2 linked regions of the Homo sapiens genome follow. The protein of the gene in region 1 purifies or fractionates together with the protein of each later gene. This does not show direct contact. Each region holds a gene or a part of one and is shown on either strand. Other genes may lie near its edges.

Evidence for each region.
Region 2: the proteins of CABYR (region 1) and DNAJB12 purify together in Homo sapiens (affinity purification with mass spectrometry; one large-scale study listed by BioGRID and IntAct). This does not show direct contact.

Annotation. Positions count from the first base shown.
Region 1 is NC_000018.10:24,136,679-24,142,693, reverse strand, and holds the start of CABYR (calcium-binding tyrosine phosphorylation-regulated protein), read right to left. Parts: upstream 3,633-6,015; 5' UTR 3,576-3,632; exon of another isoform or gene 3,339-3,575; intron 3,211-3,338; exon of another isoform or gene 3,175-3,210; intron 1-3,174. UniProt on the Homo sapiens protein: May function as a regulator of both motility- and head-associated functions such as capacitation and the acrosome reaction. Isoform 1 binds calcium in vitro. Isoform 2 and isoform 6 probably bind calcium. Isoform 3 and isoform 5 do not bind calcium in vitro.
Region 2 is NC_000010.11:72,336,968-72,341,503, reverse strand, and holds part of DNAJB12 (dnaJ homolog subfamily B member 12), read left to right. Parts: intron 1-333; coding exon 334-519; intron 520-635; coding exon 636-715; intron 716-3,192; coding exon 3,193-3,302; intron 3,303-4,536. UniProt on the Homo sapiens protein: Acts as a co-chaperone with HSPA8/Hsc70; required to promote protein folding and trafficking, prevent aggregation of client proteins, and promote unfolded proteins to endoplasmic reticulum-associated degradation (ERAD) pathway.

The sequences.
Region 1 (6,015 bases):
CATTTTAGTAAAATGGGCTAATTCTTGATGGTAGTTTAAAAAAAAAAAACACACAACCCTACTAACAATAGCCTACTATGTGCAGATGAGCAATCTAGTACCATGATAGAAATCCATAGGAAAAGCCCTGCCAAGACCCTGAGGACATTAAAAACAAAGAACAAAAAACAAGACCTGCCTCTGTAAAATTCAGTGAATATTTTGTGCAGTTAACATTTCATGTATCTGTTTCTAAACAAGTCCTTCCAAACCACACAGGCACTGGCCCTTCTGTACATATATTCATCAAACAGTTACAAGATAAGTTTTTTTCTATAAGAAAATGTTTTTCCTTATTTTTCTAAATATATTCTCAGACATGCTGCTTTTTTTTTTGAGATGGAGTCTCGCTCTGCCACCCAGGCTGGAGTGCAGTGGCGTGATCTCAGCTAACTGCAACCTCCCCTTCCTGGGTTCAAGCAATTCTCTGCCTCAGCCTCCCGAGTAGCTGGGATTACAGGTACTGGCCACCACGCCCGGCTAATTTTTGTATTTTTAGTAGAGACAGGGTTTCACCATCTTGGCCAGGCTGGTCTTGAACTCCTGACCTTGTGATCCACCCACAGGCTCCCAAAGTGTTGGGATTACAGGCATGAGCCACCGTGCCCGACCATTGCTCATGTTTAAGTGTGCATTTTTTAGCTTTAAATTTTGGGGTTTTTTCAGCCTGCTTTGTACCTGCAGGAATAACTTTGTTTTTAACATTAATCAGTGTGAGTATAATTTATTTGTGGTATTATTATACCACCCACTGTCATTTGTACCTTTCGTTTCTCATATCTCCCTTACCCTCTTCCCAAATTTTCCCTTATGTTTCCCCTTCTGCCTTTCTGCCTTTTAAGTGGTATCAGAGATACTGCACAGACCAACCTGTAATTCTCAGAGTTGCAGAGGCTGCCACCTGAAACTGTGTCAGGGTGTATGTATTCTGACTCCTAAAAAATCACCTAAGGCTTCTAAAGAACAAAATTAAATATTTAAGAAAATCCCTAGGAAAACTAAGATAGGAAAAACAAGGTGAAGCTACAGGTAAAGTTAGCACTCCAATGCATGCCATAGCTCCTTCACTTTGATAAAGATGGGCATCAAATCGGCCCCTAAGCTACCAAGCAGCCATCACAAAATAGGAGATAGGTGGTTAAATGATTCAGGTTTCTTGAGGTGAAAAACACATCAGTTGTATGGGAGAACCACAGCTATTCTGGATACTGAAACCCAGGAGAAATTTCTCCCCCAAGTCCTTATAAAGCAAATAGTGTGATATAATGAACCATGTCCTCAACAACATCCCTACAGTAAATAATGAGTTTCACGGGGTTAAGTGGCATAGTTCAGTTACAACAATTATAGAAGGGCACAGCTTCTATTATAAAGTAACGAATATCTCATAGCAAAATGTTCAATACTTAAAAACACATCTCATCTTCCCAAAGGTCAGGACAAAATGAATCTGTACTGGCCAAAGCAAATCCTTTCAGTATATAATTAAGTATAATTGAATCCCTTAATGAAAACTTCCTTTTACGATATCATTCAACAGATTTACTGAATTAAACCATCTTTAAAAAACCAGAAGTGATCCAGCAATCCCACTGCTGGGTATATACCCAAATGGAAATCAGTATACAGAAGAGATATCTGCACTCCCATGTTTGTTCCAGCACTGTTGACAATAGCTAAGATTTGGAAGCAACCTAAGCGTCTATCAACAGATGAATGGATAAAGAAAATGTGGTACATACATACAATGGAGTACTATTCAGCCATTAAAAAAGAATGAGATCCTGTCATTTGCAACAAAGTGGATGGAACTGGAGATTATTATGTTAAATGAAGTAAGTGAGGCACAGAAAGGAAAACATTGCATGGTCTCTTATTTGTGAGAGCTAAAAATTGAAACAATTGAACCCACGGACATAGAGAAGGATGGTTACCAGAAGCTGGGAAAGGTAATGGGGCCTGGGTGGGGGAGGGGGAAAGTGGGGCTGGTTAATGGGTATAAAAAATGAATAAAACCTACTACTTGAAAGCACAACAGGGTGTCTATAGTCAATAATTGTACATTTTAAAATAACAGAAAGAGTATAACTGGATTGTTTGTAACACAAAGGATAAATGTTTGAGGGGATAGATGCCCCATTCCCAATGTGATTAACATTGTATGTCTGAATCAAAACATCTCATGTGCCCCATAAATATATACACCTACTGTGTACTCACAAAAAAAGAATTTTTTAAAAAATCAGAAGTGGGGATTCCGCAGTCCCACATGCTAAATGCTAAGGGGCATAGGCAGCATGACATGTTTGATACATACATACTATTTGATACATATATATATTTGATACATACTCATATATATCATATGTCTAATTTTCTTTAAGTACCCAAAGTGAGTAGATAGACCGTTTTGAAAGTGGCTCCCAGAGGCCGGGCGCGGTGGCTCACGCCTGTAATCCCAGCACTTTGGGAGGCCGAGTCGGGCGGATCACGAGGCGAGGTCAGGAGATGGAGACCATCCTGGCTAACACGGTGAAACCCCGTCTCTACTAAAACAAAAAATCAGCCGGGCGTGGTGGCGGGTGCCTGTAGTCCCAGCTACTCGGGAGGCTGAGGCAGGAGAATGGCGTGAATCCGGGAGGCGGAGCTGACAGCCGAGATCGCGCCACTGCACTCCAGCCTGGGTGACACAGCTAGAGTCCGTCTCAAAAAAAAAAAAAAAGAATAAAAAAGAAAGTGGCTCCCAGAAACCATGATGGCGCCAACAACCTTTCAGGAGGCAGTTAGCAGTTGGTGCTACCAAAGGTGGGGACAGCGGCCATGCACTCCATGATCCCCCGTCCCACTAGTTCTCACCCCGACTTTGGGAACGTGTGGGGCCAGGGACGCTAAACGTCCTACAGTTCAGTTCCCCACAAAGAACTGTCCTAAGCAAGCTGAGAAAAGTCAACGGGTAAAATTGTCACAAACACTATTAGGGTTATTTAAAAGCGACAGCTTAATAATTCTTCCCAGATCTCTCCTATCACCAATACTGGTCCACCACTGGCGGAATTTAAATCCTGCCCCGCCCAACTGTAAACGTCCATGCGCCCACTACCACAAGGGTAACGCCTTAAGCGAGAAATACGATGCCTTTCAGGATGCCAGCGGGGACTTCGGAGCCATAGGTAACCGCACTCCCCGACCTCTCCCTAAAGAACCTCCGGGATGTGGGCCCCCGCTGTGTCAGTGCTCGTTTTGCGCTAGGTCTGTTTGGGAGAGACGGGAGTGAAATGTAGGAGGCTGGGCGTGCTCACATCGCCTGGACTTGTCCAAGAGAGGCGGGCGACGGACCCACCGAGGCCTCAGATTCGGCAGCTGGCCGTCTGGTCGCCGCACTCCCCGGTGTGGGCCGGGGCCGCCCCACAGGCCCCCCACCCCCGACTCTGAGGACCCTCCGCCTGCCCCGACGACCTCTCCCACTGCGAGAGACTCCCTGAGACATAATGGTCTCCGAGGCCGCAGGGTGCGCCTTTTCTCCAGATTCTCCCCACCTGCTTTCCGGCCGCGCTCTTAAGAGCTTCCTCGTTGCCCCCTTGCCGGCGGCTCCTGAGGAGACTTGGCGCTTGCGAGCGTTTTTATAGCCCCGCAGGCATCGGGGCGTGCATCACGAAGCTCCGCATCACAAAGCTCCGCACCACTCAAGGAGGCGGGGCCACAGCGGCCGCAGCCAATGGGGAGCCGAAAGCGACAAAGGCCATGATTTGGCCGGCGAGGGAGACTTATTTCCCCTTTTCTGGCTAAATCTGAACGGATTTAGGTGATTTCCCAACAAATAGCCAGGAGTAGCTCAAAGCGACTGCCTCTCCGTCTTTGGTCGTTGAGCTTAAAATTAGAGCTCGTTTGGAAAGAAAGTAAGAGATTTATGGCAGTGCTGTCTTGTCACTGCCTCGCCATTCCACACATTGCTCCTGGCCCCATAAACTATAGCTCTCTTCGGTCACCTTTAGGAATAATAATTTCTGCCACGTTGTAGACACACAGTGAATAATTGTATGCAACAGAGCACTTTTTCTTTTGTGAAACTCGCCTGTGGAATGGGAGTTCAGCATGAATCCAGAAACTTCCTGTTTCTCCACAGTTGAGATCAGACACCAACTATCCCCACAAAGCACACCGTCAGCAACAAGTCAAGGTGTTACTGTGTGTAACTTCAGCTCAATTTTACCAAACTAAAGGAATACTGCTTCATTTAAAAACGCCCACTCTGCCGGGCACGGTGGCTCACGCCTGTAATCCCAGCACTTTCGGAGGCCGAGGCGGGTGGATCACGAGGTCAGGAGTTCAAGACCAGCCTGGCCAAGATGGTGAAACCCTGTCTCTACTAAAAATACAAAATATTAGCCGGTCGTGGTGGTGGGTGCCTGTAATCCCAGCTACTCTGGAGGTTGAGGCAGAGAATTGCTTGAACCTGGGAGGCGGAGGTTGCAGTGAGCCCAGATCACACCACTGCACTCCAGCCTGGGCTACTGAGCGAGACTCCGTCTCAAAAAAACAAAAAACAAAACAAAAAAAACAAAAAAACGCCCACTCTCTGCTCTTTCACTCATTTAGGCTCAGGTATTTGGGCTGGGCTCTAAATAACACCATAATCATGATTATCAGAGTACAAGCAGCCTTAATTTTGATCCATCTTCAAATGTTTAAAAAGCAACTACTTTAAACCAAAGAGCATCGCCAGGGCAGATATCTGACCAAAAACAAAACAAAACAAAACAAAAACCAAACCAAAATAAAACAAAACCCTATTTTTTAATTCAGAAAAAATTAGGGCTTCCAGAGCACTTTGCAATAAAAGCAATGTTAAGGCCTCAGTCAGCATTATCTGGTGCCATTCATTAATCCACTTAATAATTATTTTACTGAGTGCCAGGAAAGCTCCCTCTTCTCGGGAAGTTTACATACTTAAAAAGGGAGAATTAGCGAGACTCCGTCTCACAAAACAAAACAAAAAAAAGGGAGAAATGCTTTTAGACTGAGTATGTTGGTGGGTCTGCAGATATTTTTCATCCTTCATCACTTGCCTCCAGCACCACTTTGGTAATGTAAATAAAAGTGAGATGAGGCTGTCATGATTTCTGATAGCTTGGTTTATAACACATTTAGGTGTCAGAGACATAATGAACTGAGCTACTGAAAATCCTAAGTACCTCATCTATGGTGTCTTTTGGAATTGGAGACATTTATGGTTTTTTTAACGTAACCTTGGTGGGTCATCTCAAACATCTATTAGGTGTAAGGTATTATGCAGAAATACCTGTAACTCAAAAAACAAGATTTTACTCTCCATTTCTTCAGTGACTGTTTGGCTGAGTCATTCTGAAATGCAAATTGTTACAATGTAAACATCTAACCAAGAATTTTCAAACCACTGCCCATCGCTGCTTTGATTTCTTGAACTCTTAATGATTTGATGTGGTTTCACAATCTTGGCTTGTGTTCATCTCCCTTTCAATCACCAGTATGTTATTTTTTGGTCACCAATGATTTAAAACGCAAATGTACCTTCCACTGCCCCTCTCCCACACCCCAAATCCTTACCCTATGGAAGTCCATGGTTGTGGGTGTGGCCTCTGCATACCTCTCGTATTTCATGTCTCACCATGTGATTCCCACTTGACCCTCCAGAGTCTTGAACACACATGTCGCTTATCACCTCTGTGCTTTTGCTCATTAGGTCCAAGGCCTTGGATGCTGCTCCAGCAAGTGTTTTCACCTGACTGCATCCTGCTTCTCCTTTAGAACTCATCTCAGAAATCTCCTACTTTAGGAAGCCAGTGGGTTAGAAGCATTTTCTCAGTGGCCCCATGATGTATGCTCTATGACTTATCCTTGCTATATAATTCTATATAATTCTGCTTGTGTTTGACTCTTCTCCCAGATTTACCAAATCCTTAACAAAAGATGAATAGGGCAATGTTTCTCTAATCCACA
Region 2 (4,536 bases), on another chromosome or scaffold:
TGAGGCCCTGCCTCAAAAAATAAAATAAACAAACAAAAAGAAGTAAATGAGGCCACACTCCTAGGAGGCCTGGCACATTGACAAAGCTTGACCATTGTCTTGAGGAGAACAAGGAGCCTGTGTTACCCTCCACCCAGCCAGGCTGCCCAGATCCACTGAGGGGTCTTCCTGCATGCCCCCTCCTTACACTGGCCAAGCTTCCTGCCCACCCCAAGGACGTCTGCTTCCTAAAGCACTGCTTGAGTACCTGAGAAAAGTGAGCACTCGGCTGCCATGGGAGCCTCCCCCCGCACCCCAGGATCCTCAGGCCTGACCTTTCCTCCTCCTCTCCAGCCATTGGCACAGCATATGCGGTACTCAGCAACCCGGAGAAGAGGAAGCAGTATGACCAGTTCGGCGATGACAAGAGCCAGGCGGCCCGGCACGGCCATGGGCATGGGGATTTCCACCGTGGCTTTGAGGCCGACATCTCCCCTGAAGACCTCTTCAACATGTTCTTTGGCGGCGGCTTCCCTTCTAGTAAGTTCCCCACCCTCCCCACAGCCAGGTATCCCTGGGGTGATGGTGGGAATGGCATGCCAGCCTCTCCCTTTCCCAACAGACCTGGCTCCTGACTCAGCCCCTCTGACCCCCAGGTAACGTCCACGTCTACAGCAACGGCCGCATGCGCTATACCTACCAGCAAAGGCAGGACCGCAGGGACAACCAGGGTGATGTGAGTGAGGAGGGCGCCAGGGACAGCGCGGGAAGGGCACCAAATCCACCCCAGGGAGGGGGCTTGGAGGAGGGTGTTCCCTCCCACACTGTCCATTCTGGGACCAGCAGAGTCCCCATAACTCTCAGCCAAGGAGCCCTCTGGGCCTCCCTTGCCATTCTGCTGAGTGACACCAGAGGGCGCCACACGAGGGAGCCATGCTCCACATTGCCGGCGGGAGCGCGGCTTTGCTGGCCTGGCTGGGGAGTGGAACCAGAAACCCCACCCACAGCCAGGTTTGAGTGTGAGGCTCCCATGCAGACCGCTCGCTGGTAAGGCCAAAGTGACATCCTCTAAGCAATGGAAAGTTACACTTTGTGAGAGAATTTTATTTTATTTTTCATTTTTTTCATGGGTCTCAGCTATTTTCTCTCAACTTTGTGAGAGAAATTTCTTTTTTTTTAATTGAGATGGAGTCTTGCTCTCTCGCCCAGGCTGAGTGCAGTGGCGCGATCTCGGCTCACTGCAACCTCCGCCTCCCGGGTTCAAGCCATTCTCCTGCCTCAGCCTCCCGAGTAACTGGGATTACGGGTGCGTGCCACCACCCCCGGCTAATTTTGTATTTTTAGTAGAGATGGGGTTTCACCATGTTGGCCAGGCTGGCCTTGAACTCCTGACCTCTGGTGATTCACCCGCCTCAGCCTCCCAAAGTGCTGGGATTATGGGCGTGAGCCACTGCGCTCTGCCACTGAGAGAATTTTAAAGGATGACAACATAGGTGCCGACTCTTCTTGCTAAAAAGCCAAAAGATACTTTTAAAAAGATATTTACAAAAATTTGGGAGGCCAAGGTGGGTAGATCACCTGAGGTCAGGAGTTTGAGAGCAGTCTGGCCAACATGGTGAAACCCCGTCTCTACTAAACATACAAAAATTAGCTGGGCGTAGTGGCAGGCGCCTTTAATCCCTACTCGGGAAGCTGAGGCATGAGAATCACTTGAACCCAGGAGGCAGAGGTTGTGTTGAGCCGAGATCGTGCCACTGCACTCCATCCTAGGCAACAGAGCAAGACTCCGTCTCAAAAAAAAAAAAAAGTATAAAAATTATAACTAGACAGTGCTTCAAACACATTTTGTATGCCACAGATCAAAGAACAGCTAGCTGGCTAAAATTAAAATATTGTGGACAATTGCAAAACATTTTAAATTCTGGCCAGGCGGAAGGGGTTTCCTTTTGCTCTGACAATATTTATTCAATTTTTTTTTTTTTTAATTTTTTGAGATGGAGTCTCGCTCTGTTGCCCATGCCGGAGTGCAGTGGCACAATCTTGGCTCACTGCAACCTCTGCCTCCCAGGTTCAAGTGATTCTCCTGTCTCAGGCTCCTACGTAGCTGGGAGTACAGGCGCCCGCCACCACACCCAGCTAATTTTTGTATTTTTAGTAGAGACGGGGTTTCACCATGTTGGCCAGGCTGGTCTCGAACTCCTGACCTCGTGATCTGCCTGCCCCTTCCTCCCAAAGTGCTGGGATTACAGGCGTGAGCCACCATGCCGGCCTTTTTTTTTTTTTTTTGAGACAGGGTCTCGTTCTGTCACCCTGGCTAGAGTGCAGGAGCCTCCCCTCCCAGGCAAAGCTCCCACCTCAGGCTCCCCAGTAGCTGGGACCACAGGCCCACACCACCACACCCAGCTAATTTTTTGTATTTTTTGTAGAGATAGGGTCTTACTTTGCTGTTTGAGCACAGGCTGGTCTCAAACTCTTGGGCTCAAGTGGTCCTCCTGCCTCAGCCTCCCACAGTGCTGGGATTACAGGCATGAGCCATTGCCCCTGATCAAAATTTTTTTATTTTGTATCTAACAACAGAAGAGTTTAACATCACAGATTATCACACAGTGAATATATTTGTTAATTTTTATTTCTAATTCTTCTTTTTTTGTTTGTTTGCTTTTTCTGCACCCTAGAACCAGTGCTATTTCTAATTTTTATTTTGTTTTAATTATTATTTTTTGTAGAGATGGGGGTGTATGTTGGCCAGACTGGTCTTGAACTCCTGGCCTCACGTGTTCCTCTCATGTTGGTCTCCCAAAGTGTTGGGATTACAGGCATGAGCCGCCACACTGGCCATAATGTTTAAATTGGTAATATATTTGTGTGGTTCACATCTCAAAAACTTGTATATACTGCATGTCTCCTTCCAGCCCTGCCTTCCATTCTCCTGGAGGAAGCAACTTTTGCTGATTTTTTTTTTTTTTTGGCATTCTGTCAAAAGTAAATGCAGACACCTCACTTCCTCCTGTATTTCACACCAGTTGCTGCTTTGTTTTTATCTGGGAAAGCTGGCAGGTGAAGGAGCGTCTGTGTTTTGGAGCCTCGTGGAGGGAACGGCAGAGTGGTGTCATGTCTCCCCAGGCTCCACTATTCTAGGGGAGCTAGTGGTGATTATGGCTGACACCACACCCCACCCAGGTCCAGCAGAGTGACATTGGCTCTTCCCTCCAGGGCGGGCTAGGGGTGTTTGTGCAGCTGATGCCTATCCTCATCCTGATTCTCGTGTCAGCTCTCAGCCAGCTCATGGTCTCCAGTCCACCCTACAGTCTGAGTCCAAGACCGTGAGTACATGGGTGAGGCCGGGCCATGGGCAGACAAGGGGCTTTAAATTCTCAGCCCCATCAGGGGCCTTCTTTCCCATCCTGATCCAGCCAGTGTGCGATCATAATGCAGAAACCTGGCTTCGAATCAAGAAAATATACTTTCTCTATTCAACTAGGACTCTTAAGCTTTTTAGGATTATGGTCCCCTAAGAAATTGCAGCGAGAGCTACAGAACTTTTCCCTAAAACTATGCACACATGTGCACACACACATACACACACACGATACACATGTACACACACACACAATACATGCACACACATAATACACATGCACACATACACGCACACATATACACACAGAGTTTTGCATATAATTTCGGCGGCTTTGTGACTCTTCCCTGCCCATCTCCCCTGCCAACCCTGACGAAGAACCTCTGCTCCTCGGCTCTGGTTGGGCTTCCTGAGGCTGTGGAAAGAACAGGGCACTAGAGTCAGACAGAGCAAGCATGGCTTAGAATCCCAGCTTCTCCACTAAGAAGCTGTGTGACCCTAAACAAGTTATATAACCTTGGTTTCCTCATCTATAAAATGGGAATTATAACATCCACCTGCTGTGGAAATTAATGAGTAATGCATATAAAATGTCTGGCCCACTAGAAATGCTCAACAATATTAGTTTAATGAATGCTTAGTCTCGACTGCCAGGAGTGAACTTGAGGACATTTCATGAGCCGTTAGGGGGTCAGCTCCCCTCACTGATGTCCAGCACCTGGCCCAGGGTCAGCTACACAGTGGGTGCACATCTTCAGTGGGGTGGGTCCCCCTCTCCCAAAAGGTGGCCACCTCTGGCTGGGAGCTGGCAGGACCCTTCTCAGCCAGCAGGGGGCAGAGTCGGTCCACTGGACCCTGGCCGCCGGCTCAGGCTCCCTGTGGCCAGATGCCAGCCCTTTTCCCTGCAACTGGAGAGATGTGAGGAGCAGAGGACTAGGGCAGGGACTGTTGTCCCCAGAGCACTGGTCCTGTCTGGGTGTCAAGGCTCTTCCCACAGCTGACAGAGCCTGTGATTGGAGCTGGGAGGATAAGGCTCCCTGGAGCCCTTCCTGTCATTTTGTTCCTAAGCCTCTTAACCCTACACTGGGAACTCCTAGATAGGCAGGCAAGCACTCAGCAACAATTGGCTTAGGGGATGAATGGGGAGATGGAGGCACAGAGGCAGAGCCCAGATTCCCTCTCAGGTCTCCAGTTCCCTA